Linked DNA regions of Homo sapiens. The protein of the gene in region 2 interacts with the protein of the main gene of each other region in a biochemical or structural test. Each region holds a gene or a part of one and is shown on either strand. Other genes may lie near its edges.

Region 1 (15,214 bases), on a different chromosome or scaffold from region 2:
CGACCAGTTCTTCGCAATCCTTGAAGGGAGGAGGGGCCCAGGAGCTTTGTGGAGGGCGGGAGCGGTGGGGGGGGGTGCTCCCAGAACCCTAGTGAGATTAAAATAAAGAGCCCAGGGCAGGCAGGCAATTCATCTCGGCCTCCCGGGACGATACTAGAACAGGACAGGAGGTTGGAACCCTCAGAGCTGGGGCCTCCGGCACCCCCAGCCCCAGCCCTCTAACAGCAGCCATGTTCCCTGTTTCTCTTCCTCACTAACTCTGAGCATCTCGGGGCGGGGCTGGCATCTCATATCAAGCCCTAGAATGCAATGGTTAGGAGCACAGACTCTGGGGCCAGCATGGGTTCAAGTCCCAGCTTGGCTACTTAACTAGCTGTGTGGCCCCAGGCTTGTTTCTTCACCTCTTTCCACCTGGGACACTCTTCTAAACCTTCACTGCAGTCATGTCTCTGCTTAAATGTCACCTGCTCAGCCAGGCCTATACTGACCCTCTATCTATAATAGCACAACCCCCACCATCATCGGCACGCTGCATGTCCCCTCACCGGAATGAAAGCTCCGTGAAGGATGGGATTTTGTCTGTGTTGTTCCCGGATGCATTTCCATTGCCAGAACCTGATAGGCTTGGGCCCCCAGCAAGTCTTTCTTGAATAAATGGGCATCATAGCATCTACCACACTGTCATTGTGAGGCTGATGTGAGTCAATATGTCTGACACACTTAGAAACTGGCACATGGCTAATGCTAAACACTCGTTTTGTTATTGTCCATCAGTCACAGGGAGTGAAGGTGAACTGCCTGAAGGGACCAGCAGGGGGCAGCCAGGCCTGTGTCACCTCGGGAAGGGGCTGCCAGAGAACGTGGTCACATGGGATGGTGAGATTTTTGGGTTTTTTTAAATTATTCAAGAGAAATCCAAAAATCAGAATTTTTCTTGCAATTTCCACACTTTTCAACTTTGGCAATTAATTCAAAATTTTAATGGTGGCTCACGTCTGTAATCCCAGCACTTTGGGAGACTGAGTGGGGAGATTACAAGGTTAGGAGTTCGAGACCAGCCTGGCCAACATGGTGAAACCCTGTCTCTACTAAAAATACAAAAAATTAGCCGGGCATGGTGGCAGGTGACTGTAATCCCAGCTACTTGGGAGGCTGAGGCTGGAGAATCGCTTGAACCCGGGAGGCAGAGGTTGCAGTGAGCCGAGATTGCACCATTGCACTCCAGCCTGGGTGACAAGTGTGAGACTCCATCTCAAAAAAACAAAACAAAAACAAAAACAAAAACAAAACAAAACATGGTGTGGGCCAAACACAATCTATCTGTGGGTCCATGGCAGGCTGCAGGGTGTCCGTCTGCAGTGGACTTGGAGTGAGCAGGCAAGAAAACGTGTTTGCTGAGTGAATGGATAAATAACTGAGTGGTCAGAGACGGAGCTGTGCAAAGGCAGGCTTCGCGTCTGTGCAGCTCAGCGGGGAGTATCAAGCACGAGGAAGCAACCTAGTGAGGACGCTGCACACCTGGATTCTTGTCACCCAGAAGGAAGGGAGGGTGGGCGTGCACTTTCCTTAGCGGAGCGCAGTGCTCGAGGGGACACACTCAGAACCCCAGCCTTGCCACCGTGGATGGAGAGTTGTCTCTTTTTGCCCTGGGGTGAGAATGATGAAGAATAAACCCCACGGTCTCCAGGCAGGTAAACTGGTTTTTTTTTAGACGGAGTCTCCCTCTGTCACTTAGGCTGGGCACGATCTTGGCTCACTGCAACCTCCGCCTCCTGGTTTCAAGCAATTCTCCTGTCTCAGTCCCCTGAGAAGCTGGGACTACAGGTGTCTGCCACCACGCCCAGCTAATTTTTTTTTGGTATTTTTAGTAGAGTCGAGGTTTCACCATATTGGTCAGGCTGGTCTCGTAAACTCCTGACCTCAGGTGATCCGCCCGCCTTGCATCTCAAAGTGTAAAGTGGGGATTTTAGCCTACTTACTAACAGGCTAGTGGCAGCAGAAGGTAGGTCCCTGCTGCTGGGAGAAAGCCACCTGCCAGGCCCACCTCATGTCACTCTGGAAGGACCGAGAGGTTCAGGCACCAAGGGGCAGACTCATCCCTCCCAGCCGCTCTGCCCAGTACAGTTTCAGAGATTTCTCAGGAAACCTGCATATTGGGGTGTGTGTGTGAACTTTCTAATTTTTTTCCATCACTTTGTGAGTTTTTTTTTTTTTGTTTGTTTGTTTTTTTTGTTTTTTTTTTTTTAAGACAGAGCCTCATTCTGCGCCCAGGCTGGAGTGCAATGGCACGATCTCGGCTCACTGCAACCTCTGCCTCCCAGGTTCAAGCGATTTTCCTGCCTCAGCCTCCCAAGTAGCTGGGATTACAGGCGCTCACCACCATGCCCAGCTAATTTTTGTGTTTTTAGCAGAGATGGGATTTCACCTTGTTGGTCAGGCCGGTCTCGATCCCCTGACCTCATGATCTGCCTGCTTTGGCCTCCCCAAGTGCTGGGATTACAGGCATGAGCCACTGCGCCCAGTGAGAATATTACTTCTGAATAGGAGTCCTTCCTCTCCTAGGCTTTCACCATCCTGTAGCGTGCATTTATTCTCAAGAGCAGTTAGAAACAGGACAGTCACTAGCCTTGAAAACAAACGGGAGCCCAAGCCACACCCTGGAATCGCATTCATTCCAGAGCTTCCTTGCAGCCCTGGGGATGGAGGGAGAGTGAGGTCAGAGGCCTCGGCCCCTTGCTCTGAGCCACTAGTAGGGGGCGACTGGAAGTGCCTCCTGGATCGCACCCCTGTCCACATCAAGCCTGCAGCAGATGAGGCGAAGCCAGTGTTACAAGTGAGAAGTGGGGCCTCCTAAAGGCATGTCACCAGCCTGGGGTCACATGGTTGCTAAATGGCAATGCCAGAAGGAAGGAAAGTCCAGGTCTGCCAGCCTGTCCATTTAGGCTTCCTTTGTCTACGTCACAGGAGGCCTGAGCCTAGAGGACAAGTAGGTGAGGAGGTGGGGTTACCATGTCAATGAAAGAGGCCCTGGGCGAGGCAGAAGGCAGCCAGAGCCCTCCAGTCTTTGCTGTCCTCTCCAGGCACAAGGAGGAAGGAGCTGGACCCAGGTCGGAAGCAGCCTGGTACAGTCCACATTCTCCAGGTTGCTGTGCCCAGGAGGGGCCCCAGGGGACCGCAGGCAGCTGTGTTGATGCTGAGAGTGAGGGGTCATGACCTGGAGGTTTGTTTGAAAACCTGCATAAACATCTTCTATCAGAGGGAGAGCTTATGCTCCTTAGCCAAACAAGTTGTTGGAGATGATGTATTGTGAGTCGATTTGTTAAGTCTGAGCTGGGGCCATAAACTCTCCCAAAACCCAAAGACTGCTCTAGAGGAGAAGGCTTCATCTCCAGGCAGAGGATCCCAGTTTTGGTCTCGCTCTCCTCGCTGGACTGAAAGATGCTTCCCAGAAGCTGGCCCTGTCCCCTCAAGCAGGAGCTCCATCTTGGCCATTAGCTGGGACCCAGACGCCACCCCTTCCCCATTGCTCGACCTTGCCTGCTATGAGCTGAAGGCCAAGACGACCCTCCTGCCCTCTGGCCTGGAGCCAGCACCTGCAGAGAAGTCCGCATTGAGAGGGAAAAGGGGGTATGGAGAAGGTGGCGGGGGAGACAGAGAATGGGGAAGGACCCTCCTCCCACAGCTGTCCCCATTGCAGAAAATGACAATCCATCCTTTTGATGACTTGGATTGAGGTCCTTGGCATCATTCTCAGTGTTTCTCTTTCGGTCACAACCCACTCCAATCTATCAAGAAATCATCTTGACTCTACCTTCAAGGTACATCCAGAACCAGACCGTTCTTCCCGCCTCCCTTGCACCTGCCTTGTGCAGGCAGCATCACCGCTGCCTCCTAACAGCTCTTCCTGCTTCTGCTCTTGTCCCCTTACAGCCCCGCAGTGAGCCCCATGGCCATGAAATCAGGTCATGCACTATGGCTGCCCACTTCTCCCAGTCCAAGCCAAAAGCCTGCAGCAGGCAGCACTGGCCCTCATCCCACCATTTCTCGCAAGTGGCCTCTGGCACCTCCAAGAACGGATGAAAGGGGGCGGATGCCTTTTGTCTCTCTGCTAAGTCATCAGAGGTAAAATCACCACCAATCCCAAGAACCTGGGGGAAACGCTGAGACGGGTCGTTCAAAGAATGTGACAGCCCTCCAGGAAAGAGGGTTGCCCAGCGTCCTCATCTTCTCTTCCCTCCTCACTCCCTCCACTCCAGCCAGGCTGGCCTCAGACACGCGAGCATCTCTTCCGCTTGGAACACTCTCCTCTGGTGACCTTCCAGGGTCCCTCCCAGGTCTCCTTGTCTTTGATCAAATACCACCTTCTCAATGAGGCCACTCAAATGACCCTATTGAATCCTGCAACGTACCCTGTCCTGGTTTTCTTTTCCACAACACTTAACACCATCCACACCCACATCACAGAACATAGTAGGTCTACTGTTTTTGTCTGCTAGAATGTAAGCTACCTGAGAGCAGGGCTCTGTTTCTCACACTGATGTGTTCCCAGAACCTAGAGCAGTGTCTGGCATATACCAGATGCTCAGTAATTATTGAATGAATAGATGGATGGGACCGGGCGTAGTGACTCATGCCTGTAATCCCAACACTTTGGGAGGCCGAAGAGGACGGATCACCTAAGGTCAGAAGTTCGAGACCAGCCTGGCCAACGTGGCAAAACCCTGTCTCTACTAAAAATACAAAAATTAGCCAGTTGAGGTGGGGCGTGCCTGTAGTCCCAGCTACTCGGGAGGCTGACACAGGAGAATCGCTTGAACCTGGGAGGTAGACGTTGCAGTGAGCTGAGACTGTGCCACTGCACTCCAGCCTGGGCGACAGAGCGAGACTCTCTCTCTCTCTCTCTCTATATATATATATATAAATGAACGGATGGATGGATGGATGAGAAAAGAAACAGCCAGGAGCTCCAGAGATGAGAGGGAGGCAAAGGGCTGGAACCCACAGAGACAGGAAGTCACCAGGGGGAGGGGCCTGAGGCCAGGAGCATAGCATCCATTTGGGTGCCAGTGTCCAGATGCCCTTTGTCTCCCGCTAAGTCATCGGAGGTGAAATCACCACCAATCTCGAGAGCCTAGGAGGGATGCCAAGACAGGTCACATGAAGAATGTGGCAGCCCTCCAGGAAAGAGGGTCGCCTAGGGGGACCTAGTGTCTCTGGACAGTTTATTTTACATGGGATGAATCTAGGCATCTCGAGGATACACACAGAGCAGAAGAAAAAAAAAACGAGATGGGATTTAACTTCCTGAAAACTCTTTATAATAATGCAGGACAACTGTATATAGCAAACGCCTTCAAAATTTAAACTCTTTAAACATTTAATTCTTCAGCATTAATACACACAAATGCGGTAACAGGGGTCAGGGGGGTGGTGCGGGGGCAGGTGGGTTACAGCCTCCACTGGGATCAGGGTTTCAACAGTGTTACTTATAAATTATATTACATCAATTTTATTTACTGATCTAGGCAGCCAGAGGGTGGAAGGATATACAATGTGGAGGAAACACATTCATACCGGGGTGAGGAGTGCTGGCGGGAGACACGGCTCTTTAACATGAAAAATGTATAAAGTATTTAGCAAAAGTTACAGAAAACAGATCAAACAAGCAAGTTTATTTTGTTAGAAAATTCCACTTTCATAGGGTTTGCCGATGTGCTCGTGTCTGTGAAGGGGTTGCTTCCGGTCATCTCCTTCCTAACGGAAGGGAAGGGATGCTAAGTTGGGGCCCCTGTCACTAAGGATGGCTGGCGTCCCTTTGAATGTCTGTCCCTGGGTCCACACAGCTGCCTGGAACCCACGACTCCCGAGAGCCCGTCTGCTGCAGGTGATGCTGGAAGGGAAGCGCCCCCACTTGACAGATGAGTGCACGGAGGTCCCGACAGGGGATGTGACTTAACTTCAGGTTATGGGACAAAGGAGGCCGCAGAGCAGGGCCAGTCCTGTGCTCTCCCCCTGCATAGCAGGCTTTCCCTCTAGGTCTCCCAGTCACCCCACCCCGAGAGAGCACCCACGTGCCCTGACCTTACATTCCACTGCAATCCCACTAAAGTTTCCCTCAAACACCAAGGAACAGTCCTGAACACCACACGCAATCTCCAAAGGCCATCGCCCCAACCTCACCCCACCCCCAGAGACACCTCCCAGGAAGCCCTCCTGACAGCCATGCCCCAGCATTTAGAACGTGGGGAGAAGCGAATTGGTTTTTGCCCTCTGTCTGATTCTCGCTCTAACCTGCTGCAATGGGAATTGCTTCTTCACCTCCAGGAAAGCCTCAACAAAAATACTCCTGAGGGGGAGACAAGAGTCCTCCCCGGCAAATTTCAACCCAGCAGAGTCCTGGCAGCCTCTTCGGCTCCCTACCTTGAGGCCCCGGGGGCTCAGGCTTCCTGGCCCTAATCTTCACCTGGCCTGGATCCAGAAATGTCTCTGGTTCGCATAGAGAGGTACCCAACTGGTCTCGGGACTCACCTTTCACTGAGCAGGGGGCATGAACAAGACACAGCTTAGTGGAGTGTTTACCTCAGGGGTCACACTCAGCCTGGTCTGGCCTTAACTGGGTGTGGTCCTGTCCCTGCCACCATGTACCACCATCCAGTGGGGTGCAGGTACAGGCCAGGCTGTGTGATCACCAGCTAGGCAAGGCTCCAGCTGCGACAAGGACTCCATCTTCACGCCTGTCCTGGCTCCTGGGGAGTAGACTCCAGAACATACTATCAAAGATCGACGAATGAGATCCAAACGGTCATTACTTGCACTGTCTTTGGGGGGTCCTAGGAGAAACTACCTCATTCTTAACAGCTCATAAAACTCTTAATTTTAGCTCCATTTGAATCTAAATGGAAAAGTACCACGGCATCTCTCTCACCAGGACTTGAGGCAATTCTATGCACGATTGTGCAGATGAGAGCCAGACACAGCATGAACACGTGTACAGGGTACATCATTGGAAATGAGAAAGGGAGGAGGTACATGCAGTTGCCGGTGGCCTGAGACACTCATCTAGAACAAACACCCTCAGCTTGCAGATGAAGCAACAGATCCAGGAAAGCATCATGATGAGCCCCAGGGCCAGCCCCAGCCTTCTTGTCCATGCTGCTTCTGCTCGCCTTTCAAAGCCTCCAACGCCCAATACATAGCCAAGGACCGTGTGACACTGAAGCCTGGGTCCCAGAAGGGAGCAGATCTGCTGGCTGAGATGCAAGCTTCAGGTTGCAGCAGACGTGAGCAGCAATTGAGCACCCATCCGTCCCTTCCCCTCCCATCCCTGGATTCTTTCTGCACTACCAAAAACCCACCACGCGCCAAAAGGCGAGTGTGAGCCCTAAGAACAGCTTGTGGGCACAGCTGGCATTTGGAGGAGGAGCCTGGGGAACTGAAGGAAGCAGCAAGCTGGAAGTGGTCGTGCAAACAAGTTGAAGACCCTGGGCCAAGAACTTCCAGGGCGAAAGGCTCAGTGTAAAAATAAAGAAGCAGAGTAGTACGCCCATGCAATGAAATACTTCCCGGCAAGGAGAAGGAACAAACCACACGCACACATCATGAATGACTCAAAAGCATTAAGCTGAGGGAAAGATGCCAGACTCAAAAGGCGACATCAGTGTGACTCCATTTATATGACATTCTAGAAAAGGCAAAATTATAGGATCAGATAATCAATCAGGGTTGCCAGGGAAAGAGGGCAGGAGAAGGGAATTTTTTGGAGGGTTAAAAACAGGTTGATCTTGGTGATGGTCACAAGACACTAAATTTGTCAAAATTCACAGAGCTGTATATTTCCAAAGGGTGAATTTTACTGGATGTCAATCATACCTCAATAAACCTGGGAAAAGGTGGTGGCGATGGGCCTTGTAGGGATGGCAAGGATTATGGGGATAAGACGATGTCCAGGCTACGTGGGGGGGCAGCTGATCTGTACCCCACTTAACATTAGAAGTGCTCTCTCCGACCTACACAAGGAATGCATCTTGAGCCTTCTGTTTAAACACTCCTTGTCAAGACTACCTGCAGCTGGAAGTAAAATCACCTAAACAAGCCAAGGTCGCTGATGTCCTTCGAATGTTATGGCTTGTATTTCCAAAAGGGACTTTGGCTCAGCCCAGATTTTTCTGCATCCATCCACTCATCTAGTAATTGATTGGTTTTCACAAAGGGTAGGGAAAGAAACCCCTGGTTGGTGAATTCGTTGGTACACTGTTTCGGTGTGCCCAGCTGTTTATCAATCCTGACTAGCAGAGCACTGCCTCCCACCGCAGAAATTCTCCTTGGCCAACAGGGTGCTGAGTGGAGGTAGAAAGGAGGCCCAGGGTGGTCCCACTGACAGAATCTCAGGGCCGCCATCCCCACGGTCCAAGGGGCCTATGTGTTGCCACTGACTGAAAGCACTAGAAAGAATAGAGGGTAACAAGTGGCTCTTCCTGGAGGTTGTCACAGCAACCAACTTGGAACACCATTTGGCTTAAGGAATTTTTTTTTTCTTTTTAAATCAGGCTTTCACAAACAGATCTTGTGCATCAGTCTCCTGGGTGGAGGCAGGTAGAAGGGGCTGACTTGTTCTCAGAAATGGAAGGGACATTCTCAAGAATAGCCCAGACCCGCCCACTTTGAATAAACCCAGCTAAGTCCTCACCTAAGCACCAAGACATAAAACAAAACAACAACCCGGATAGCGTGCTTGCCTCTCCAAAGTGCAGTCTTTTATTTTCTCAGTTGCATCCTAACCTTGATTTCAACCAGAAACGGGCCCCTGTTCATACGGATAGGGGTTCTGGACTGTTGACTCTAGCCCTGGTCTTAATTCACTGGCAATTTCATAGCCTCACTGGTTACCCTTGAGCTTCACTTTCCTATTTGCAAAGAGTTATTTATAATTTTTTTGAGATGGAGTCTTGCTCTGTCACCCAAGCTGGAGTGCAGTGGCCCGATCTTGGTTCACTGCAATCTCCGCCTCCCAGGTTCAAGCGATTCTACTGCCTCAGCCTGCCGAATAGTTGGGACTACAGGTGTGCACCACCACATCTGGCTAATTTTTTGTATTTTTAGCAGAGACGGGGTTTCACCATGTTAGCCAGGATGGTCTCGATCTCCTGACCTCGTGATCTGCCCACCTCGGCCTCCCAAAGAGCTGGGATTACAGGCGTGAGCCACCGTGCCCGACCCTTATTTGTAAAGAGTTATTTAAAGCAAACAGAGAAATTTCTGAAATTCGAATTGGATATGGGCCGTGAGGGTCTGGTGACCAGGTGATTAAAATCTTGTTGCTGTCTACCTTCCATCCAACAGGTAAATGCCTCACGACGGTGGTTTATATTATAATAAAGAATCCCAGAGGGTTAAGTGTGGAGAGGGTACAATGTTCTTATTATACTCTTCTCAGTCGACATGGAGAATAGAGGAGAGCAGAGGAATGCCCATCTTACATACAACTAGAGCGCCGCTTCTCAGCATGCCTGGCTTGTCTTGAGCATTCGCTGAATGAATGCAGATTAATCAGAACAACAGACTTACCTCTGAAAACTTAAATTCTGTAGAGTGCCTATGTATCAATGCCAAGGTTGCTGACCGGTAAGACCCCTGAAAACGAGCGATCACGGGCTTCCCTGACGACAGGGCCATTATAGTGTCCTCAGATTAGATCTTAGCACAATGGCTTTAACCTGCTTGATGAATGAATAACAGAGGGAAGAAAGAAAGGAAGTACGTGAAGGGGGTAAAGAGAAGGAGGTGAGGGGATGAGGGGGGAAAGAGTGACCTCCAAAAATGGACTGGCCCAAACTGGGCCAACCTGAGCTACCCTGGAAGACGCAAGAGGGCTCACTCTATCCCAGGGATGAACAGAGGACTCTGGAATCCTCAGATGTAATGGAAAAGTCAATGAGCCATATTGTACTCAAAATATCTTGTTAATAACAAGGCTATTGGCTTTGAATGTTTGGAAATCATCCACAGAGTAGTTTACTAAGCCACAAAGCAATTACCACTAGCACCCATTTTTCATAAAGAAACCAAGAAATAATATTCTAAAATTGGTAGCTGGTGTCATGACCCAACCCCAGATCTGGACAGAGTGGTTCTCCATCCCATGGACAGATCCTACCAGGAGGTCTTCACGTAGGTGAAGGCCTTTGTGCTGACCTTTTTGGTTGCAATGTTTCAAGAACAAGAGAAAAGTGACAACGTTTGGTTTACTTTAGTATATTAGGCATTTTTCTAATGTGAACTATACGAAAGCAATTCTCATTCAATGAAAGAGGCGCCAAAAAATTAGAGATTAATAAGTCATCGGTTTCTAGCACGTTGACTGAAAGACCAGTGAGTTGTGCTTGTTGAATTCTGCCCTCACTGCAGATGTGCAGGTCAAACCCAAAGTGGTCAATGGGAAAGATGAAGAAAGATGGATTTCCAGGGCATGGGCTCCCGACTAGAATCTGCCCCTCGCTCATGCTTCTCCCGGCCCCTTTAGACTCTTTAGACTGACATGGTGGAGAATGTGTTTGCTGTGGTAGAGAAAGGGAGAAAGTAATGAGCTGGGCCAAACAGCAGCACTGAAAGCTTCCCAAGTCACACTCAGACCAGACTTTTCCAGGGATTGGAAGATGGAGAGAGGGAAAGGAGGTGCAGACACCAAGTAAGGGTTTGGTGCAGGGCTCTGGAATGTCCAGAAGGAGCGGGAAGCAAAGGTGGCGGGACACTGCCTGAAAGGCGACAACCTAGTGTGGCCACAAGAGAGTCTGCTATGCCTGTCCAGTGCCCACCAGTGACAGAAAACTGTACAAGGGACAGCAGTCCCAGCCCTGCCATACACAAGAAGACAGAGCCATCTGGGGGATGGCAAAGACTTGCCCTAACCCATCTCACATGTAGGACTGACCCGGCCCCATTAAGAGCCTGTGGTGGGCGGCCCGGGAGAGTGGGGGCCAGGGCAGCCCAAAGGTGCACAGGGCACCGTGGCGGACAGGCCCCAGCTTGCTGGCCTCTGAGACGAGCTGGTTTGTTTCCATCCCTGAAGCCTTTGGACGAGCTGGATGAGGTCTTGATAACTGAGAACTTTGGAAAGCTTCCTCTAATGAGACTGGGAAGGGCTGGCAGGGTGGGGGCAGGGGCCTCCCCGAGGAAGCAGCTGGGGGAAGGATGGATTGGCATTTCCAGAGGAGACTTTACAGATGGCGCCTGATCTCATGGGACACGATTCAGCGCTCAATTTGGGGCTAATTTGCCGAATGAGGTAGTTCCATCCTGACCTCTCCAGGCATGGTGGGTCTGGGAAGACAGGAGCCAAGCCTTCCTCCTAAAACCCCTGGTGATGAACAGTGGCTGAGAAAGCCAGATGTGGACTCCCAGAATGCAATGGGAAAAAAATAAAGAAGGAGGGCTGCAAAGGATTCTGGGTGCGGCTGTGAGCTGAATGGCACCTTCTACCCATGATTCTGATCCTGACACCTGGCTTAGAGACAGAGCCCTCCCTACCCTGATCCTCCAAAGCCCTGGAGACAAGGGAGCCAGCTGGAGGAAGAGCCTTGGGGCTTCCAGGGCACAAGCATGTGACAGTGACCCCTACAAAACTCGGCAAGGACCACAAAGTTCCAGCCTCTGTTTGTTTCAGAGCGGCAAGCACAGCATGGGAGTCAGGGGGTCTTCAGCCTCAGAGACAAGGGCAGGGCTGTGGGTCTGTCTTCTGGGCCTGGGAATATGGGGGAGCCCCCAGCTAGGCTGTCCGGGTCACCCTTCTGGAATCACCAGCTCTCTCCCCTCTCCTCAGTGGCCCAGGAGAGAGGGTGGGGGGCATCCACTCGGCATGGGCCCCATGGTGGGAGCCCAGCCCCCCTCCCCAGCAGGACCCCCCGAAGCTGCACAGGCCCATCTAGATCTCCATGTCCACAGGGCGGATGTTGCCCGTCTTGTGCTCTCTGACCCACAGCTCCCTGTCTTTGGCCGGGTCCACTTTTCGAAGCAGCTGATCCACGGGCTCGACTGTCTGCAAGAGACAGAGAAAATGCGACACTGTTAGAGACGGCGGCCAAGCCAGGGAGGTCTCCTCTGAGACATGCTGTCCTCACCTTAGTGTCTCTGAGAGCAGCCTCTCTAGAGGGCTCCGGGGCCCCAGGGGGAGGCCCATCTGAGGGACAGCACATGAAGAGGGCTGTGAACGGGGAACCCAGTATGCATCCCGACCCTGCTTCTCACCCTGCAGACCCCAGGCCTGGATGAGAGGCCAGGAGGGCCTTAAAACCTGTCTCTATCCCTTCCACCCCACATTTACCACCAGTGAACAGGACAAATAAAACTTGAGCTTTAGGTATTGTGAATATTTCTAGAAGTTGTTTTTTTTGGTTTTGTTTTTTAAGAAATTTAATAATGTCTTCAGCTACTGTAACTGTTACGAGCTTCTTTCTCCTCAGGGTAACAGCTCACGTGTGTGTCCACTTCATGTGCCAGGGTCGGAATCACACAGACGTCCAGGACAATCCTGAGAGGCCCAGTCCACGAGGCCACCCCCAGGCCAGAGCACCTGCCCACTGCCCGCCTTTAGGGCAGATTCACTTGCAGCAGCCACTTAACCTGCCACGGCCTAGCGCCAGGCGGCTCTCCCCAGGCCCCGTGTCGCCCGGGAGCCCCGCTGGGCTGGAAACTCACGCTTTGGTTGAACATGTCTGTTTCATGCCGCAGCTGCGTGTACTGGCACAGGTGCTGCCGGATCATCTCTACCCTCTCCACCTCCAGCCGCTCTAGCTCCTGCCGAGAAAGCAAAGGCCAGAGAACTCTGAGCACGTCCCCTCCACTTGGGGGTCCCCCCACCAAGACCACAAAACGCAAGTCACTGGCTGTGGACATTCTGTCCCATCTGACTCTCTGGGGTCTGATGAAGAGCGTGCCCCATATCTAAGGTGAAGGTGAAGCTGATGACAGCAGCAGCGGCTGTTTTACTTCCTGAAATCCTGCTCCGCCACGCACAGTGCTGAGGGCTTTACGTGCGTTCCTTAACTGTCCTCGTTACAATTTTAAGAGATCGTTTCTGTTATTATCCCCATTCTCCAAGCAAGGGAACTGGGGAACTAACACCTAGAGAGGCAACAACACAGCTCACCCAAAGCGACACGGAATTATGGGAGGAACAGGATTTAAACCAGAGTCCATCAGGCTGTTACTCATGGCAATGCACCCATGCAGCCCTGGCCCTGGTGCCCTGATGGGGTATAACAAGGGGGCACATGTGGGAGCTCCATGCCACACATTCCTGGGACCTTGTCCCTGGGCCTCTGCTGAGCAGCCTCCCTTCCTCTGCCTATGCCTAGTGCTGTGGCCGCAATAGAGACCGGGCCAGGGAGGCAGACTGGGCTGCACGTGGCACAGCTTTTGTCAAAGGGGAGCGTGGAAAGGGTTTGTCCTCTGGTTTCTAGATGGTTTTGTGTCTTTGGAATCTAGGGGATCCGGCTGTTACTCTGCATACAACTAGGTCACTGCCCAGGTGATTAATCAGAAAGGGGGGTAAAGCAGGGGGCTTAATTAGGAGATTAACCAGGAGGAAAACTAGGTCACTGTCCCTGGTGGAGGCCTCTAATCTGCTCTGGTGGGCTGACACCTGGGGAAGGCAGCTGGTTAGTCCTGTGCTGGATGGACAGGGGTGGCTTTAGGCAGTGGGCTGATCCGATGAGCACCTGGCATGATGCCTCCTGTCCCATCTGGCCCAAGTACCAGCCACACTTCACTGTCCACTCAGGCAGGTGCTGACTGATAAGGAGATGCTGCCCCTTTACAAGAAATACTCAAGAGCATCATCGGCCCTGCCGCCTGTTGTTCACCCTTGGTGAGAGGCCTCCCCCACCCCACTGCCTAGCTCCATCCTCACCCATCCATCCACTTTGCAAGGATCTCCTACCAAGGACCTGCAACTCGTGTGTGTGCATGTGTGGGGCGGTCCTCTCTTCCTATAGCTTGGCTATTTTTCCTAAAGAGGCCCTTGTCCACTTAGTTGAGGAGAGTCCTCAGTTGACCCTGACCTCTCAGGGGACAGCCCAAGAAGGATGTAGCCATATCCAACCCAACCCTGCCCACATCCACACAGCTAGGAAGCGCTGGAGCAGAGATCTGAATCCACATAAGCTGGCTCACATTGAGGTTTCGACCCCAACACTGAAGTAGATTTGATGACCATCTCCAGGGTCACTCCACCCCATCATCCCCGCGCCCACCAACAACCACCAGGGGCTGCTCTGTGTCAGCCTCTGTACTGCCATGTCCACACATCCCTGCCCGCTTACCAATGTGGTGGTCACCATCTCTTCAAACCATTTGGACTGGGCCTGGTTGTAGAGATCCACACAGCGCATGAGGTCGTCTCCTGGAAAAAGACCACAGTCACCATCATGAAGCATCCTATCCTCACCATGACTCTGTGCCCCACCCTGAGCCCCACAGCCAAGCCTTCTCCTCCCCCTGGGGTCATGGTGGCCGCTGGAAAGCTGGAAAAGGGATGGCAGTAGGAAGAAGAAGAAAGCAGAGCCAGGGAAGGAAGGGGGCAACCCAGCCCCATGAGAACCCAGCTCAGGTGTCCCCCTGAAGCCTGACCCCAGATACCAAGGATTCAGGATGGTGGTTCTCATTTTGTGTGTGTGTGTGTGTGTGTGTGTGTGTGTGTGTGTGTGTGTGTGTCTAGGGTATTCCTAGGACCCCCAATCCTATCATGAGCCCAAGAAATGCTTCCCTCTCTAAAGATGGCAGTTTTATTTTACACTGGGGAGTCCAGATTGGTTAAAACATGTCACACACAATTTGGTGCTAAGAATAATTAAGGAAGATAAATTTGCAGATCATGTAAGTGTGTGTGTGTGTGTGTGTGCATGAACACACTGCAAGATGTCCTTCTGAAACACAAAAGAACGCATCTGTAGTCACAGTCTAAAACATGCACTGGAGGAGCACACCCCAGCTTCAGGAGAGTGGCTACCTTGGGAAACAGAGAAAGGGTGAGTGGGCAGGAATCAGCTCCTTCTATTGCATTTTATGTCATCACAGAAAGATCCGAGGCAAACATAACTATTCAATCTTTAGGACTACTCTATTACTTTGTTATCATATGTATGTTTAGAACATTTTGTAATTAGAAAGAAAACACACTGCGAAGTAATTGCAAACATTACTAAGCGTACCAGCACCTTGG
Region 2 (17,219 bases):
CTCCCGGACGGGGCGGCTGGCCGGGCCGGGGGCTGACCCCCCCACCTCCCTCCCGGACGGGGCGGCTGGCCTGGCGGGGGTTGACCCCCACCTCCCTCCCGGACGGGTGGCTGCCGGGCGGAGACGCTCCTCACTTCCCAACGGGGTGGCTGCGGGGCGGAGGGACTCCTCACTTCTCAGACGGGGCGGCTGCCGGGCAGAGGGGCCCCTCACTTCTCAGACGGGGCGGTTGCCAGGCAGAAGGTCTCCTCACTTCTCAGATGGGGCGGCCGGGCAGAGACGCTCCTCACCTCCCTGACGGGGTCGCGGCCGGGCAGAGGCGCTCCTCACATCCCAGACGGGGCGGTGGGGCAGAGGCGCTGCCCACATCTCAGACGATGGGCGGCCGGGCAGAGACGCTCCTCACTTCCTAGATGGGATGGCGGCCGGGCAGAGAGGCTCCTCACTTTCCAGACTGGGCAGCCAGGCAGAGGGGCTCCTCACATCCCAGACGATGGGCGGCCAGGCAGAGACGCTCCTCACTTCCCAGACGGGGTGGCGGCCCGGCAGAGGCTGCAATCTCAGCACTTTGGGAGGCCAAGGCAGGCGGCTGGGAGGTGGAGGTTGTAGCTAGCCGAGATCACGCCACTGCACTCCAGCCTGGGCACCATTGAGCACTGAGTGAACGAGACTCGGTCTGCAATCCCGGCACCTCGAGAGGCCGAGGCTGGCGGATCACTCGCGGTTAGGAGCTGGAGACCAGCCCGGCCAACACAGCGAAACCCCGTCTCCACCAAAAAAATACGAAAACCAGTCAGGCGTGGCGGCGCGCGCCCGCAATTGCAGGCACTCGGCAGGCTGAGGCAGGAGAATCAGGCAGGGAGGTTGCAGTGAGCCGAGATGGCAGCAGTACAGTCCAGCTTCTGCTCGGCATCAGAGGGAGACCGTGGAAAGAGAGGGAGAGGGAGACCGTGGGGAGAGGGAGAGGGAGAGGGAGACCGTGGGGAGAGGGAGAGGGAGAGGGAGAGGGAGAGGGAGAGAATCTTTGATTTTTCTAGAAGGAAAAAGTTCTAGGTTTTCCCTGTATTCCATCCTCCACCCCTTTCTGGAAATGCTGAAGACAGATACCATGTTCCAACATTAAGAACTGCCAGGTGCTACATATGGTCAGAAGCTTGTTTATTTTCATTTTTATTTATTTATTTATTTATTTATTTATTTATTTATTTATTTATTTATTTATTTGAGATGGAGTCTCGCTCTGTCACCCAGGCTGGAGAGCAGTGGCGCAATCTCGGCTCACTGCAAGCTCTGCCTCCCGGGTTCACGCCATTCTCCTGCCTCAGCCTCCCCAGCAGCTGGGACTACAGGCGTCCGCCACCACGCCCGGGTAATTTTTTGTATTTTTTTTTTTTTTAGTAGAGACAAGGTTTCACCATGTTAGCCAGGATGGTCTCGATCTCCTGACCTCGTGATCCGCCCACCTCGGCCTCCCAAAGTGCTGGAATTACAGGCATGAGCCACAGCACCTGGCCTATTTTTATTTTTTATTTTTAGAGATGAGGTCTTGCCATGTTGTCCAGGCTGGTCTTAAACTCCTGGTCTCAAGCAATCCTCCCACCTTGGCCTTCCAAGGTGCTTGGATTACAGTGTGACCCACTGCACACAGCCTAATTTTTTTTTTTAAAAACGTTAACTTTTTATTTCTGAGGTTATTTTCTCCCTCTAGTGGCTTACAGTTCTTATCAGGAAAACTTACTCTTCTGCATGACAGGTGGTACTGTAATCTGCTGGCTGGCCTCCTGTGGTTTGGGTCATAAGGACACATTTCTAAGGCTTCTGGCTCCATGAGGACTAAATGGTAGGAACCACAGGTTGTCAAATAAAAAGAATGACATTTAAGATCAGGTAGTCTTGGCATAGACCTATTTTATATTGTCAAAACAAAAGTAATATGAAAGATAGGAGTATCTCAAGTCTTACCTATGAAAGTTTCGAGTAACCAAAGCAATAGCCTAGCCAGTTAGACAGTAGGGGAAATTCACTGCTTCCATGCAAAAAATTAACGTTTGTATATATTTTTAGTCTTATAAGTTGTGTTAGATAGAGTGCTTGTCTCTCAAATAAAGTATTAAACAGGCAAAGGTCCTTGGAAAACTCAGTCTGGAGTAAGATGAATTTTTTTTTTTAAGACAGTTTCACTCTTGTTGGCCAGGCTGGAGTGCAATGGCGTGATCTCGGCTCACCACAACCTCTGCCTCCCGGGTTGAAGCTATTCTCCTACCTCAGCCTCCCGAGTAGCTGGGATTACAGGCATGTGCCAAGCCTGGCTAATTTTAAATTTTTATTAGAGACGGAGTTTCTCCATATTAGTCACGCTGGTCTTGAACTCCCGACCTCAGGTGATCTGCCTGCCTTGGCCTCCCAAAGTGTTGGGATTACAGGCATGAGCCACAGCGCCCAGCCAGTGAAATTTCATACTGTAAGCTTGAGTGCTGGAGAAAGAAAGGCTGGGACAGCTGGTTCCTTTACTATTCAGCATTGGTCCCTCCATCCCTTTTCCAACTTACCTAAATTAAGCTCTTTGCCAGGGAAAGATGCTAATTGTCAGATAGGTCAGCATAGCCACTGTTGGAGAAAAGGAATCTGAAGTATGAACAGTACAATGCTTAAGTTCAGGCTACTTTATAATTATAATAATTATTTTTTAGAGATGGGGCCTTGATGTTGCCGAGGCTGGAGTGCAGTGGCTCTTCACAGGTGTGATCATAGCACATGACAGCCTCAAACTTCTGGGCTCAAGCAATCCTTCTACCTCAGCCTCCTGAGTGGCTGGGACTACAGGTACATGCCAACATGCCAATCTTGGGCTACTTTATAGTTACCTGAGAATGTCAGTCTCAAATTTCTAAAGTTGTAGGTATTAACATATGAAGACTCCTAGAAGTGATTCAAGAATATACCATCTCAGATCTGCTACATTTTACTGCCAATATAAGGCCTACTTTCTTCCATGGCTAGCTGTCTTTAGCTATCCTAGCAGACGTTCATATTAAGGACTCTCAAGTTTCCAGGCAACAGCTACACCGAGATTTCTGCAAAGCATGGACAGTATAGTTTGATGGAGGAAAAATAAGATCAAGGCAGACTGGAATAAGCAGTAGGGATAGAAAAGTGCCTTAGAATAGTCCATTTCAATTCTGCTTTGCATCATGCCTAGGGCATAGATAAAGGGCACAGAGCTAGACTATTAAATGTCAGATTTTCCTGAGGGCATTTTGGTGACTAAATCCAGGGATTTAGACTCAGGTACCTTTCAGGAATACAAGTCAGGGTAGTTGTTTAAAGCTTTCACTGCATATTAATGATTATATTAGAGCCATGAACCCTTATTATAAAGTGAATTGGCTCTCTGGAAAATAAAGGCTGCAGCATAATTCAATGTTGTATACTGTTATCTTTAGATTTTTAAAGATAATGGAAAAAGATCTTCAATAACCCAAATGTAGTCTTCAGACAACCCCAAACCCTCATTTTGGCCAGCAGCCTAGAAAAGTATGAAGTTTGACCAGACTGATAAGCCTGGTCTTAATAAATGAAGACTGCTTTAGAATAGGTGGCGAGAATTGGTGACGCTGGGTTATTCACCTGATTATGGATAGCTGAATGGAGGCTAAGACCATTTCCTTTGATATATGTTAGACATGGCCAAAGCATTCCCAACCTTGATGCCACCTTGACACTTAAACCTAGCCTAAAGGATCTTGAGACCTACCTTATTCTTGAAGGAGTGTCTGTCAAGAATCTGAAGGCAAGTGTGACTTGAAGGCGAAGACGATCCTTTGGTAAGACAAAAATAAGACAAATAGCTGAAGTTTGAGGAGAGGGAAAGCACAGTACCTTTTAGTCTGGTGATGTGAATCAACTTTCCATTCAAGCTACTCAATTCCTCTTTTCCCACCATATGTTCTATGATTTCTCAGAGGTTCGGAAATTTTTGATGTCATAGTTAAGTCTTAGAGAACTGGCTCTCAATCCTGATTGTTCATGAGAATCACTGAGTAGTTTTAAAGTGACAGGTCCTTTGGTCCCACTCCAAAACTACTGGATCAGAATCTTCAAGAATGGGCTCTGGCTAATTGTGGCTTTAAAAGAGTTCCACAGGTCTGGCACAGTGGCTCACACCTATAATTCTAGCACTTTGGGAGGCTGAGGCAGACAGATTGCTTGAGGCCAGAATTTTAAGACCAGCCTGGGTAACATAGTAAGACCCCCATCTCTATAAAAAAATTTAAAAAATTATCCTGGTGTGGTGGCGTGTGCCTGTAGTCCAAGCTACATGGGAGGCTGAGGCAGGAGGATCACTTGAGCCCAGGAGTTCAAAGCTGCAGTGAGCTATCATGACACACAGTTGTACTCCATCCTGAGCATCAGAGCAAGACCCTGTCTCTATTAAAAAAAAAAAAAAAGAAAGACTTCTACAGGGGATTCTAGGTCTACCAGGCCATACTTTGGGAGTAATTAAATACCTTTAGAAGGGTTCCTCCAGTTTATGGGAGAAACTGCTGAATGATCTTTCCAATAAGTTTCTCTAAAAACTACCAGTTGGCATAGTTAGTTACATTAATTTTTTTGAGATGGAGTTTTGCTCTTGTTGCCCAAGCTGGGGTGCAATGGCATGATTTCGGCTCACTGCAACCTCTGCCTCCCGGGTTCAAGCGATTCTCCTGCCTCAGCCTCCCGAGTAGCTGGGATTACAGGCGTGCACCACCAAGCCTGGCTATTTTTTTGTATTTTTAGTAGAAATGGGGTTTCTCCATGTTAGCCAGCTGGTCTTGAACTCCTGACCTCAGGTAATCCGCCCACCTTGGCCTCCCAAAGTGCTGGGATTATAGGCGTGAGCCACCGTGCCTGGCAAAATTTTTTTTTTTTTTTGAGACGGAGTCTTGCCCTTGTCACCCAGCCTGGAGTGGCAATGGCTTGATCTCGGCTCACTGCAACCTCCATCTCCTGGGTTCAAGTGATTCTCCTGCCTCAGCCTCCTGAGTAGCTGGGATTACAGGTGCCCGACACCACGCCCGGCTAATTTTGTATTTTTAGTAGAGATGGGGTTTCTCCATTTTGGCCAGGCTGGTCTCAAACTCCTGACCTCAGGTGATCTGCCTGCCTTGGCCTCCCAAAGTGCTGGGATTACAGGTGTGAGCCACCACACTCAGCCCAGAAAATTTTTTTTGAGACAGGGTTTTGCTTTGTCTCTCAGGCTGGAGTGCAATGGTGCAATCACAGCTCACTGTAGCCTCAACCTTCTGGGCTCAAACAATCCTCCTGCCACAGCCTCCTGAATAGCTGGGACTACAGGTGTGTGCCACCACTCCCGGCTAATTTTTGTATTTTTTGTAGGGATGGAGATTCACCATGTTTCCCAGGTTGGTCTTGAACTCCTGGGCTCAAGCCATCTGCCTGCCTCAGCCTCCCAAAGTGCTGGGGTTATAGATGTGAGCCACTGCGTCTGGCCTAGTTCCATTTTTAAACCTAGAGTTTTTCTTTATGAGTGTCAAATAGAATCCACAGAAAGTGACATAACAAGCTCACTACACACTCAAAGATCAAAATTTTACTTTACTGTTGACATTCCTAATCCAATGTAGCAGGTCTTGAACCAAATGTTTACATATGCCATATTATTTCATCAGTTCCACAGTCGTATGAGGGATTACCACCATTTTATAGATTAGGAAACAACTCAATGGTGATAGATAGCTAAAGTTACAAAGCTAGTAAGTGTTTAGCATTATTAATATTAATTGAGGTAATACATGTAAGCTTGAGTGCTTATAGTACTTCAAATGCTTTACATGTACAGAGTAAGTAACTAGGCTATAACTTTTAAAATATGCACAATAGCTCCGTGAAATAGGAAGTATTATCAATATCATCTTTATTTTACAGACAGGATAAATAGGATGTGAACTCAAGATATCTGGTTCCAGAACCTGGGCTCTCGGTCACTAAATCATAAGGCTCAGCCCACTGTACTCAACTACACTTGAGCCAAATTCTGTCTGATAACAGCAGGTAGGCTTTTCGCATATACCAAGTACAGGGGAATAAGTGTTTCCAGGTTTCAACAATCTTTTGGTTCAGCTGGCTAGGCAGTATTATATGAAATGGGCAGTTAAGGACAGAACCTGATTTAGATGTAAAGTATGTGGTATAGACCAAGTGTTGTGGGAGTTCGGCAAAACCTAGACTTGGGACTATTGAGCTAGATCCTGAAGATTGACTAGGATTTGGGTAAGCAAGAAGGAAAGCATGCGTAAGTGAAGTCAGAGAGGCAGACATGAACATAGCACATTCACAGCAGGCTGAGAAGATGGTCCCCACCAAGTTGGGGAGTATCCATTAAGGAGCAGGAAACAAGATTAGCTTGGGATGCAGAGTCTTCAACCACACTTTCAGGATAAAGACAAGAAATTCAAGTGAGGTGGCTCACAAAAAATACAAAAATTAGCCAGACGTGGTGGCCTGCACCTGAAGTCCCAGCTACTCAGGAGGCTGAAGTGAGAGGATCTCTTGAGCCTGGGAGGTCAAGGTTGCAGTGAGCCATGATAGCACTACTGCACTCAAGCCTGGGCAACAGAGCGAGAGCTTGTCTCAGGAAAAAAAAAAAAAAAAAAAAAAGGAATGCAAGAAAGAGCCGCTAGAATTACACTAACCCCACGAAGACCGGTGCTATGCTGCTGCTAAGCTTCCTGGATGTTGGCCTCTTACTGTCTGCTCCATATTCTCCTTGGTAAAGGTAAAAGACCAGTAGAAATCCTACAAATTGCTTTAGTAAAACCTGGGTTTCTTTGATAACAGCAGGTAATTCAAATCTTCATGACCAATATCACATTACCTCGAGCCCATAGCTTTCTAGGGACCCAGTCTAGTAAATAAAATGGAAGGCAGATTCTATATTCCTAAAATGCAAATTCTACCTTAGAGATATTTGAAATTTCATGCGTTAAGTGTTGCCATCTTGCTGCTTCTTTTAAAAATACATTCTCTTTGGAGCATGGATGTTAAGTTTCTTTTTAAAATTAAAAAACATTTAGATTCAGGGGATACACATGCAGGTTTGTTACATGGGTATATTGTGTGATGCTGAGATTTGGGCTTCTAATGAACCCATCACCCATGCCCAAATAGTGAACACAGTACTCAAGTTTTTTTTTCTTTCTTGCCTTTATTTATTTATTTATTTATTTATTTATTTATTTAGAGACATAGTCTTGCTCTATCGACCAGGCTGGAGTGCGGTGTTGAACTCCTGGGCTCAAGCGACCATCCCACCTCAGCCTCCTGAGGAGCTGGGCCTACAGCCATGTACCACCACACCAGGCTAATTTATTTTATTTTATCTGTAGAGGGGTGGGGGAAGGTCTCACAATGTTGCCTAGGCTGGTCTTGAACTCCTGGCTTCAAGCAATCCTTCTACCTTTGCCTCCCAAAGTGCTGGGATTATAAGCATGAGCCACTTCACCTGGCCCCAACTTCTTAAGTAATAATGCTGATCAGCCTTGTCTCTCTTCTCCCACTCCCTAGAATTTATTGGGACAATGGGAACTCTGGATACGGAAAATGGGAATGATTAAAAACCTGAGAAAAGGAATTGGCAAGGTGGTGGAAATGAAGAGAACTCTTTTTGATTTATAATTTTTCCTAGGACCTTTTGCTTTGTGTCTTGAAAGAAAGTTGAAATAGAGTTGAAAATTTTCTTGAGTTACGGAGTTAAGGCCTCATTGGAATGGCAAGAATATTTTAATGCTAAAATTCATTCAAGTCTCTAAGATTTAAGGGTGATTACTAATTTCCTCTTTTTAATCTTGATTAATTTGGTTCTTCTTCATGGGGCCTATTTCCTAATTTAGTCTTAATAATTCAACAAATAAACCAGCATATTTATTGAGTGACTACTGTGTCCAAGAGGTATTGTTCTAGATCAGTGTTTTTCAGAATGGAATATTTGTACCAAAACCTCCTACAACAGTGCTTATATAAGTACAGACTTCTAGGCCCCACAACAGACTCGCCTACCTACCAATGCTAATCTCAGAGGACAGGGATTGATCTGTTTCTCAAGCATCCATAAATACCATGGTACTAGAGCACTGGTTCTCAAACTTGAGTGTGCATTGGAATCACCTGGAGGGTTTGTTAAAACACAGAGTGCCTGGACCCACCCCAGAATTTTGGATTCAGTGGTCTGGGGCGGGTCCTAAGAATTTGCATCTCTAACAAGTTTCCAGGTGATGCTGATGCTGCTGGATCACATTTTGAGAATTACTATGTACTTCTTGAGAACTACTTTGAGAATTATTATGTACTGTAGAAGTACAATGCACTGTAGTAGAGCATTGTGAGAAATATAAAAAAGTATTAGAGGCCGGGTGTGGTGGCTCATGCCTGTAATTCCAGTACTTTGGGAGGCTGTGGCGGGTAAATCACCTGAGGTCAGGAGTTCGAGAGCAGCCTGGCCAACACGGTGAAACCCCATGTCTACTAAAAATACAAAAATTAGCAAGGCGTGGTGGTGGGCACCTGTAACCACAGCTACTCCAGAGGCTGAGGCTGGAGAATTGCTTGAGCCCAGGAGGTGGAGGTTGTAGTGAGCAGAGATCATGCCATTGCACTCCAGCCTGGGCAACAAGAGTGGAACTCTGTTTCAAAAAAAAAAAAAAAAAGAAAAAAAAGTATTAGGTACAATTCCTGTCATTAAGGAGCTTATGCTGTAGTTGGGGGAGATACAACGTACACTATAAACATATAACAAGGAATATATGTATTTGACAATATAAAATATAATACAATATAATATTTGACATTGATGGGGTCTTTAGGAGAAGATGGGATTTGATCTGGGTACTAAAACATGATGAGGCCAAAGGTTCATAGGCATTCTTGGATATAAAAGAAGGAAAATATAGAGGTGTACAGGGGTGGGGTGGTAGATACTTGTTTATCTAGCTTACAGCTTTTAATTTTTATTTTTTATAGAGATGGGGTCTTGCTATGTTGCCCAGGCTGGTCTGGAACTCCTGAGCTCAATGGATCTTCCCACCTTTTCCTCCCAAAGTGCTGGGATTACAGGTGTGAGCCACCACGCCCAGCTTTGTCTAGGACACTTATGGGGGCATAAGACCAAAAAGGTTGGTGCAGTCTGTGAAGAGCCTTGAAAGCCTGTCCTTCTCCTCAGCTCCACCCACTTCATAGCCTTACCAAAAGTGCTGCACAGCCAGAAAGAGGAAGTCTCCCCTGCTGAGTGTGCAAGAGGAAGCACAAGAAGGCTCTGAGGGCCTGTGAGCCATAATGACTGATTTCACCCATGAGCCAATTGCAGAGGCAACAGAAGACCAGTGCACCAACCAGGCTGGGTCCCTCCGCCAGAGGGTGTCACCATCTAAGCTGAAAGTGTTTGGGGAGATCAGACATTGCTGTCTGGTGCTCCTCTCTCAGTGGCCATCATGTCTTTGACATCTGCTTACCAGCATAAATTAGCAGAGAAGCTCACTATCCTGAATGATCGCGGTCAGGGGGTTCTCATCCGTATGTATAACATCAAGAAGGTAAGCATGAACAATGGGACTAGTACTGATTATTCCAACAATAATAGGGCAGGGAACCCTGAGGCGGCAGGTGCAGCAGTTAGACTCCCACCTTTTTTTCCACTGCTTTTCCACTGACTATAATCTACATAATCACTCAGATTATACAGGCCAGCCAGTTCAGGAAGGCAGAAGTGGAGGCTTCTTTTCAAGGCTTCCCCTTTCTAGATATGATTCTTGCCCCAACGATGGCATCTGCTTTCCTCTGGGGATGGGGGTGAGGGTGGGGATGGGGAAACAACAGTGGTATTCCAAGTGACTTGGATAAAGGTCTGGGGTCCAACCTTCTGGGTTTTATTATTTATTGTTGATCCTCTACACTCTGAAGAGATCTGAAGCTGGGTCTCTGGCAAAAACTTTTCTGTGGAAGTGCTTCCCTAAAAGGAAAAAAAATAGATAATTAGGTATTTAGATTAAAAAGGGTAGGTGTCTTCTGAGCTGCTCCTGGGGTAGTTCATGCTGTGGTGGTTGTGTGTGTGTGTGTGTGTGTGTGTGTGTGTGTGTTTAGAATAGGAACTGAGGAATTGAAAGAAGCTAGTGACAAGAGGTGGGCTAGGGGCTGGGCAAACCATAGGAAGTAAAGAGATAAAGACAGGGGTGTTTATGGGGAGTTCCTGGCATAGAAAATAGGGGACTTTGGGGGAGGGAGCTTTTGTGTTTTTTGTAATAAAACAAATCACCAGGAACACGGTTTCTCTGTCACCATGAATCCTGTAAATGCCCTTTGGGATAAGATACTTACATAGTGAACAAAATTGTGACACTGAATCTTGTACAAAGTCTAACTCCTGAGCAGCTGCTTTTCTTGTTCCTTCCGGCTTCAGTTGAGGGGCGGGGAAACAGCTTCCTCTTTGTGCTGGGGCCAAGCAGGCATTAAACTCTACCCATCAAGACAAAATGCCTAGGTTGTTATTTCGCTCTTAGATACTTGGCTTAATGTCTTGGAATTTTTTCTTGACCTACTCTTATGCTTTTTATTTTTATATTTATTTATTTATTTATTTATTTATTTATTTTCGGAGTCTCGCTCTGTCGCCCAGGCTGGAGTGCAGTGGCACGATCTTGGCTCACTGCAACCTCCGCCTCCCGGGTTCAAGCGATTCTCCTGCCTCAGCCTCCCAAGTACCTGGGACTACAGTTGTGCACCACCATGCCCAGCTAATTTTTGTATTTTTAGTAGAGACGGGGTTTCACCATGTTGGCCAGGCTGGTCTCGAACTTCTGACCTTGTGATCTGCCTGCCTCGGCCTCCCGAAGTGCTGGGATTACAGGTGTGAGCCGCTGCGCCCAGCCTCTCATGCTTTTTAAATTAGTTCCCAGGTTGCCTTTTCCTAAGACAGATTATGAGAATGAATGTTGCAAGAAGAGGTATGTTTCTGAGGAGGAGGAGAAAGGGTTGAAATATATATGGTTTCTCTCTGCAGACTTGTTCAGACCCCAAATCTAAGCCACCTTTCTTACTGGAAAAGTCCATGGAACCATCTCTCAAGTATATCAACAAGAAATTTCCCAACATAGATGTCCGAAACAGCACGGTGAGAACTTGGTCCTTCTCTCCTTTCTCTGAATAATTCTCTGCTTGAATGGCTGAAATTCTCCTCTTTTGATGCCTCTCTTCAAACTTGGCAGGGGATGGAGTAGTCTTTTTTTATTAATAGTTTTCCAAGGCTCAACCACAGGGCTTCAGGTTGTTGTAGAGCTTTAAGTCTTGAGCATTTTGAGATAAGATGGGATTCTTCCAGCATAAGCTGGAGCGAATCATCACCCCTTTTCCATTGCAAGATTCATGGGAAAACATTGTTTTTGTACAAGACAGCTCTATCAACCCAGCAGGGTACATGTATTTTATTGTTTCTGTTTCCCACTCACTGTTTCCTTGCTGTTTGTCTTAGATTTCTGCATCTAATGGGATATCTCTACTTTTCCCTTATTAAATGTTAACCCTAGATTTTTCACCCATCTTTGTAGCATCTTTGAATTCTGTTTCTTTTGACTTTGATATAAATAGTATATCTGTTCATCTGAAAGGGTGCTTAAAATTTCCTCTCATTTAGCCCTCTGTATCTAGTCAGGATCACATGCAACCATTCTACCTAGATAGACAATCTCCTTTGTTTAAAGACCTTCAGAGCACTGAAGCGTTTCTAACTTCCTCTGTCAGTATATTTCAACTCTCTTTCTTTTTCTTTTCTTTTCTTTTTTTTTTTTTTTGAGATGGAGTCTTGCTCTGTCACCCAGGCTGGAGTGCAGTAGCACAATCTTGGCTCACTGCAACCTCTGCTTCCCAGGTTCAAGTGATTCTTCTGACTCAGCCTCTCGAGTAGCTGGCATTACAGGCGCCCGCCACCACGCCCAGCTAATTTTTGTATTTTTAATAGAGACGGGGTTTCACCAGGTTGGCCAGGCTGGTCTTGAACCCCTGACCTCAGGTGATCCGCCTGCCTCGGCCTCCCAAAGTGCTGGGATTACAGGTGTGAGCCACTGCGCCCGGCCTCAACCCTCTTTAAGAATGTTTTAGGTATAACCACTGTTCTTCTTGAGTTATTTGGATCAATTGTCTTATTTTGCACTTTTTTATTGTTTTGTTTTGTGTTTCTCTCAGCAACATTTAGGACCAGTACATCGTGAAAAAGCCGAGATAATTAGATTCCTCACCAACTACTACCAGTCATTTGTGGATGTCATGGAATTTCGGGTGAGCTCTCTTGAGCCGTTTCCAATGTAGGCAAGGTCTTTCAGAGGCTATTCTTTCTTTAGATGTTCATGTATTTGCTTAAAACAAGTTCTTGAAAAAATGAGAGAGATGTACTAATATGGAAGGATATCTAAGTTGTATTGTTAAATGAAAGCAAATTTCAAAATAGTATATGATACATCACATTTCTATTTTAAAAGAGTATGTATGTATATGTATTTAGTAAATATCTAGGAAAGATCTGGACTATTTTACATTAAACTGTTAAAAATAACTACCTTTGGGGACTGATTATGACTGGCTTCAATTTAGTAGGCTATGCATGTTTTTTCTATTTTAAAAATTATGGTAAAATACACATAACATAAAATTTACTGTCTTAACCATTTTTAAGTATACAGTTCAGTGGTACTAAGTATATTAATAATGCAACCATCTTTTCACCTTGTAAACCTGAAACTCTCTACCCTTTATGCAATAATTCCCCATTTCCCTTTCTTTCCAGCCCCTTGCCATCACAATTCTACTTTGTTTTTGTGATTTTGACTATTCTAAGTACCTTATATAAGTAGAATCATAAAGCATTTGTCTTTTTGTGGCTGGCTTATTTCATCAGCCTAATGTCCTTAAGGTTCATCCCTGTTGTAGCATATTGTAGAATTTCCTTTTTAAGCTAAATAATATTCCATTGTATGATTATACTACATTTTGCTTATCCGATCGTATGTTGATGGACACTTAGGTTGCTTCCAAGTTTTAGCTATTGTAAATGATGCTGCTATGAACGTGGGTGTACAAATATATCTTCAAAACCCTACTTTCAATTCTTTTGATTATAAACATGAAAGTGGAAATGCTGGATCATATGATAATTCTATTATTAACTTTTTTTTTTTTGAGTTAGGGTCTCACTCTGTTGCCCAGGCTGGAGTGTAGTGGTGCAATCACAGCTCACTGCTGCCTCGACCTCCTAGGCTCAGGTGATCCTCCCACCTCAGCCTCTTGAATAGCTGGGGCTAAAGGCACATGCCACCACACCTGGCTAAGTTTTTATATTTTTTGTAGAGATGGGGTATCCCCATGTTGGCCAGGGTGGTCTCAAACTCCTGGGCTCAAGCTATCCACCCACCTCGGCCTCCCAAAGGCTGGACTGTGCCGGCCTATTTTTAACTTTTTGAGGAACTGCTATACTGTTTTCCACAGTGGCTGTACTCTTTTACATTCTCACCAACGGTGCATAAGGGCTATAATTCCTCCACATCCTCGCCAACAATTGTTATTTCGTTTTTTTGACAGTAGCCATCCCAGTGGGTGTGAGGTATTATCTCATCTAAGTTTTTATTTGAATTTTTGCTAATGATTAGTGATAATGAGCATTTTTCATAGGCTTATTGGCCATTTATATATCTTCTTTGAAGAAATGTCTGTTTCATTCTTTGACCATTTTTGAATTGGATTTTTTGTGTGTGTTGAGACTTAGGAGTTCTCTATACAGGTTGAGTATTCCTTATGGAAAATTCTTGAGACCAGAGTGTTTTGAATTTCATATGTTTGCAGATTTCAGAATATTTGCATTAGGCAGTTGAGCATCCCTAATATGAAAGTCTGAAATTTGAAATGTTTCAATGAGCATTTCCTTTGAGTGTCTTGTTGGTGCTCAACAGGTTTCAGATTTTGGAGCATTTTGGATTTTCGGGTTAGGGAAGCTCAACCTGTATAAACTATATATCTTTGCATTATTTGAGCTTTAAAAATTTCAAGTATTTTTCCACAATATTTTATACAAACCTACTGTAAAATTTCTAGTATAGTACAATGAATATTGTTATACTCTTCTCCTGGATCTCCTAATTGTTAGTATTTTGCCACATTTTCTTATCCTTCTCTATTTTTTAATGAACTATTTGAGTTAGCCTCATACATCATGACATTTCCTTTCCCAAATACTTAAGCATACATTTGCTAAGAGCAAGAATATTTTCTTACCCAACCCTAATATAATTATCATACTCAGGAAATCATACACAGGAAATATAACATACACAGGAAATATATCATACACAGGAAATATAACATTATGGCTGGGTGCTGTGGCTCACGCCTGTAATCCCAACACTTTGGGAGGCTGACGGGGATGAATCGCTTGAGCCCAGGAGTTTGAGACCAGCCTGGGCAACATGGTGAAACCCCATCTACACAAAAAAAAAAAAAAAAAAAAAAAAATTAGCTGGGCATGGTAGTGAGTGCCTGTAGTCCCAGCTGCTTAGGAGGCTGAGGCAGGAGGATCACTTGAACCTGGGAAGTCAAGGCTGTAGTTAGCCATGATTATGCCACTGGCCACTGTACTCCAGCCTGGGTGACACAGTGAGACTTTGTCTCAAAAAAAAAAAAAAAGAAACAAAACCCCACCCAAACTAATATACAGCCCATATTCACATTTCTCCAGTTGTCTCAAGGATAATACATTGGATTTAGTTATGTCTCCTTCATCTTTAATCTAGAATGATTTCCAGCCTTTGTCTTGTATGACACTGACATTTTTGAAGAGTCTGGGCTAGTTATTTTTGAGAAATCCTTCAATTTGAAATTGTCTTATTGTTGATAGTTTTTGGGAGCAATACTACATGGATGATATTTTATTTGAATTTTAAATAATGAGCATGTATTATTTTTATAAACATAAAAAATAAAAATTAATATGATGTTTTTGAAAGAAAAATTGATAAGGTATTATTAAAATTTTAAAAATTAATGTCGTAATTTTACATTTAGAAATTTGTCATAAGGAAACAGAATTGTTTCATGGGGAAATAAAAAAAGGAAACAAATGCAAAGACATATGTATAAGAATATACTCCATTGCATTATTTATGATAGTTACAATGTGATAATTGATATATCCAATAAATAAAGGTTTGGTTAAAAGTTCAGAGTATGTGCCCACAAATGAATATTCTGTAGCTGTTAAAGTATACACACATATATATATATACACACACATATATATTTTTTCTTTTCTTTTTTTTTTTTTTGAGGCGGAGTCTTACTGTGTTGCCCAGGCTGGAATACAGTGGCGTGATCTCGGCTCACTGCTGCCTCCGCCTTTGGGTTAAAGCGAGTCTCCTGCCTCAGCCTCCTGAGTAGCTGGGATTACAGGCACGTGCCACCACGCCTCGTTAATTTTTGTATTTTTAGTAGAGATGGGGGATCTCACCATGTTGGCCAAGCTGGCCTCGAACTCCTGACCTCAAATGATCCACCTGCCTCGGCCTCCCAAAGTGCTGGGATTACAGGCATGAGTCACTGCACCCAGCCAATAATATATTTTTTATATTAATTGGTATAGAAAATGTTCATCATATGTTGTTTAATGTAAAAGCAAATTGCAGTAAGACAGTTTAAGACAGATGTAAGATGTAAGATGTCCCTAAAATGTATATTTACATAGGTAAATATGCATATAAAGAAGATTGGAATTTCTGATCGGTGGGATTATAGTTTAAAAAAGCTAGTTAAAATTAAACTTGTCGGTATTTTCTAGTTTTTTCTACAATAAACATGTATTATTTATGTATTCAAGAAATAATGCAAATTTTAGCCCTCTGAGCAACCCAAGCTTGTGGTGGTGTTATAGTATTTTTTCAGATGATACAAGAATAATGTGTTCTGTGCCTACCCTAGGAAGCAAATCCAGGATATTCAGTAGATCACATAGTGAAGAGAGAAGTGAGGACAAGAAGGACTGTAATGTATGAACGAGGGTCAGGTCAGAGAGTATTCATTGTGGAATTGAGAGTAGTGGTTAGCAAGAGGGTAGGTGCTGGTGGAGGCAGTGGGAAGAATGCTGGAAGCACATAAAAAAAGTCTCTTACTGAGAAAAGTTGAAGGGCAAAGGAGATTTTAGAACACCTTCTGGTTGCTGCAGTGGTAAATAAAGTTCTGAGCCCAAGGTGTTTGGTACGGCTTGTTTAGGAAAGGAGGGGAAATAGGGACATTGAAGTATGATGCACTGTTAAGTAGGCCCTGAATTAGACAGACTTGGTTTCAAATCTCAGCTTTACCACTTACAAACTGTATGACTTTAGATAAGAAACTCTTTAAATTCCAGTTTCCTTATCTATAAAATGAGGAAATAAGATTTACTGTGTGAGGCGTCTGTGAGAATTAAATGAGATAATGCATGGACAACATCTAGCTTGGTGTTTAGCATATAGTAAGGCAATAGACCAACACATGTTATTTCCGTTCCCTTCTGATTCTTGTCTGTAGAGAATAAGACCTGCGTAGTGACATTGGTTGTGTGAGTGGCTGAAAGTGAATTTCAGCTATATTCCACTGGAATTTGGGTGTAGGCTGGAGTTGTAGAAAGGCATTCCTAGCAAATGAGGAAGTATAGACCTAGACAGAGGTCATGTAGCATACAGGGAAAATCAAAAGCTCTGGATTCAAGTTCTAGTACCATTCCTTACTAGCTCTATGATCTTAGGCCAGTTTCTTTATTTTTCTGCATTCATTCAGCAAGTATTTATGATGTCACCCGGCTCCCCGCCACATTGCGGAAACAAGCATGGAGACGGGGCACTGCCTGCACAGGGCACATTTTGGGGGACAGCTACCCTGTCTGGTGTGTTAGGCAAGTTTCTTAATGGCTCTTGGCCTTGGTTTCCTTATCTGTTAATTTAGACACAGCCTTTTTTTGGAAGATAAGTAAGAAGCACTTTTCCTACACATTTTAATAAATTTTGACAAGTGTATATGCCTGTGTAACCACCACTACAAAGTATTGAATATTTCCATCACCCCAAGGGTTCCTTGTGCCTTTTTTTTTTTTTTTTAGCTTCAGCCAATCCCTACCCTTCACTTCTGGCCCCAGGCAACCACTGATCTACTTTCTAGAA

The links.
Region 1: the proteins of NCKAP1L (region 2) and GAS7 form a complex in vitro, tested with the Homo sapiens proteins (one study listed by BioGRID).

The regions. Positions count from the first base shown.
Region 1 is NC_000017.11:9,905,311-9,920,524, forward strand, and holds the end of GAS7 (growth arrest-specific protein 7), read right to left. Parts: intron 14,396-15,214; coding exon 14,316-14,395; intron 12,790-14,315; coding exon 12,691-12,789; intron 12,032-12,690; coding exon 11,918-12,031; 3' UTR 5,296-11,917; downstream 1-5,295. UniProt on the Homo sapiens protein: May play a role in promoting maturation and morphological differentiation of cerebellar neurons.
Region 2 is NC_000012.12:54,488,305-54,505,523, forward strand, and holds the start of NCKAP1L (nck-associated protein 1-like), read left to right. Parts: upstream 1-9,447; 5' UTR 9,448-9,485; coding exon 9,486-9,587; intron 9,588-10,473; exon of another isoform or gene 10,474-10,531; intron 10,532-11,050; coding exon 11,051-11,161; intron 11,162-12,228; coding exon 12,229-12,321; intron 12,322-17,219. UniProt on the Homo sapiens protein: Essential hematopoietic-specific regulator of the actin cytoskeleton. Controls lymphocyte development, activation, proliferation and homeostasis, erythrocyte membrane stability, as well as phagocytosis and migration by neutrophils and macrophages.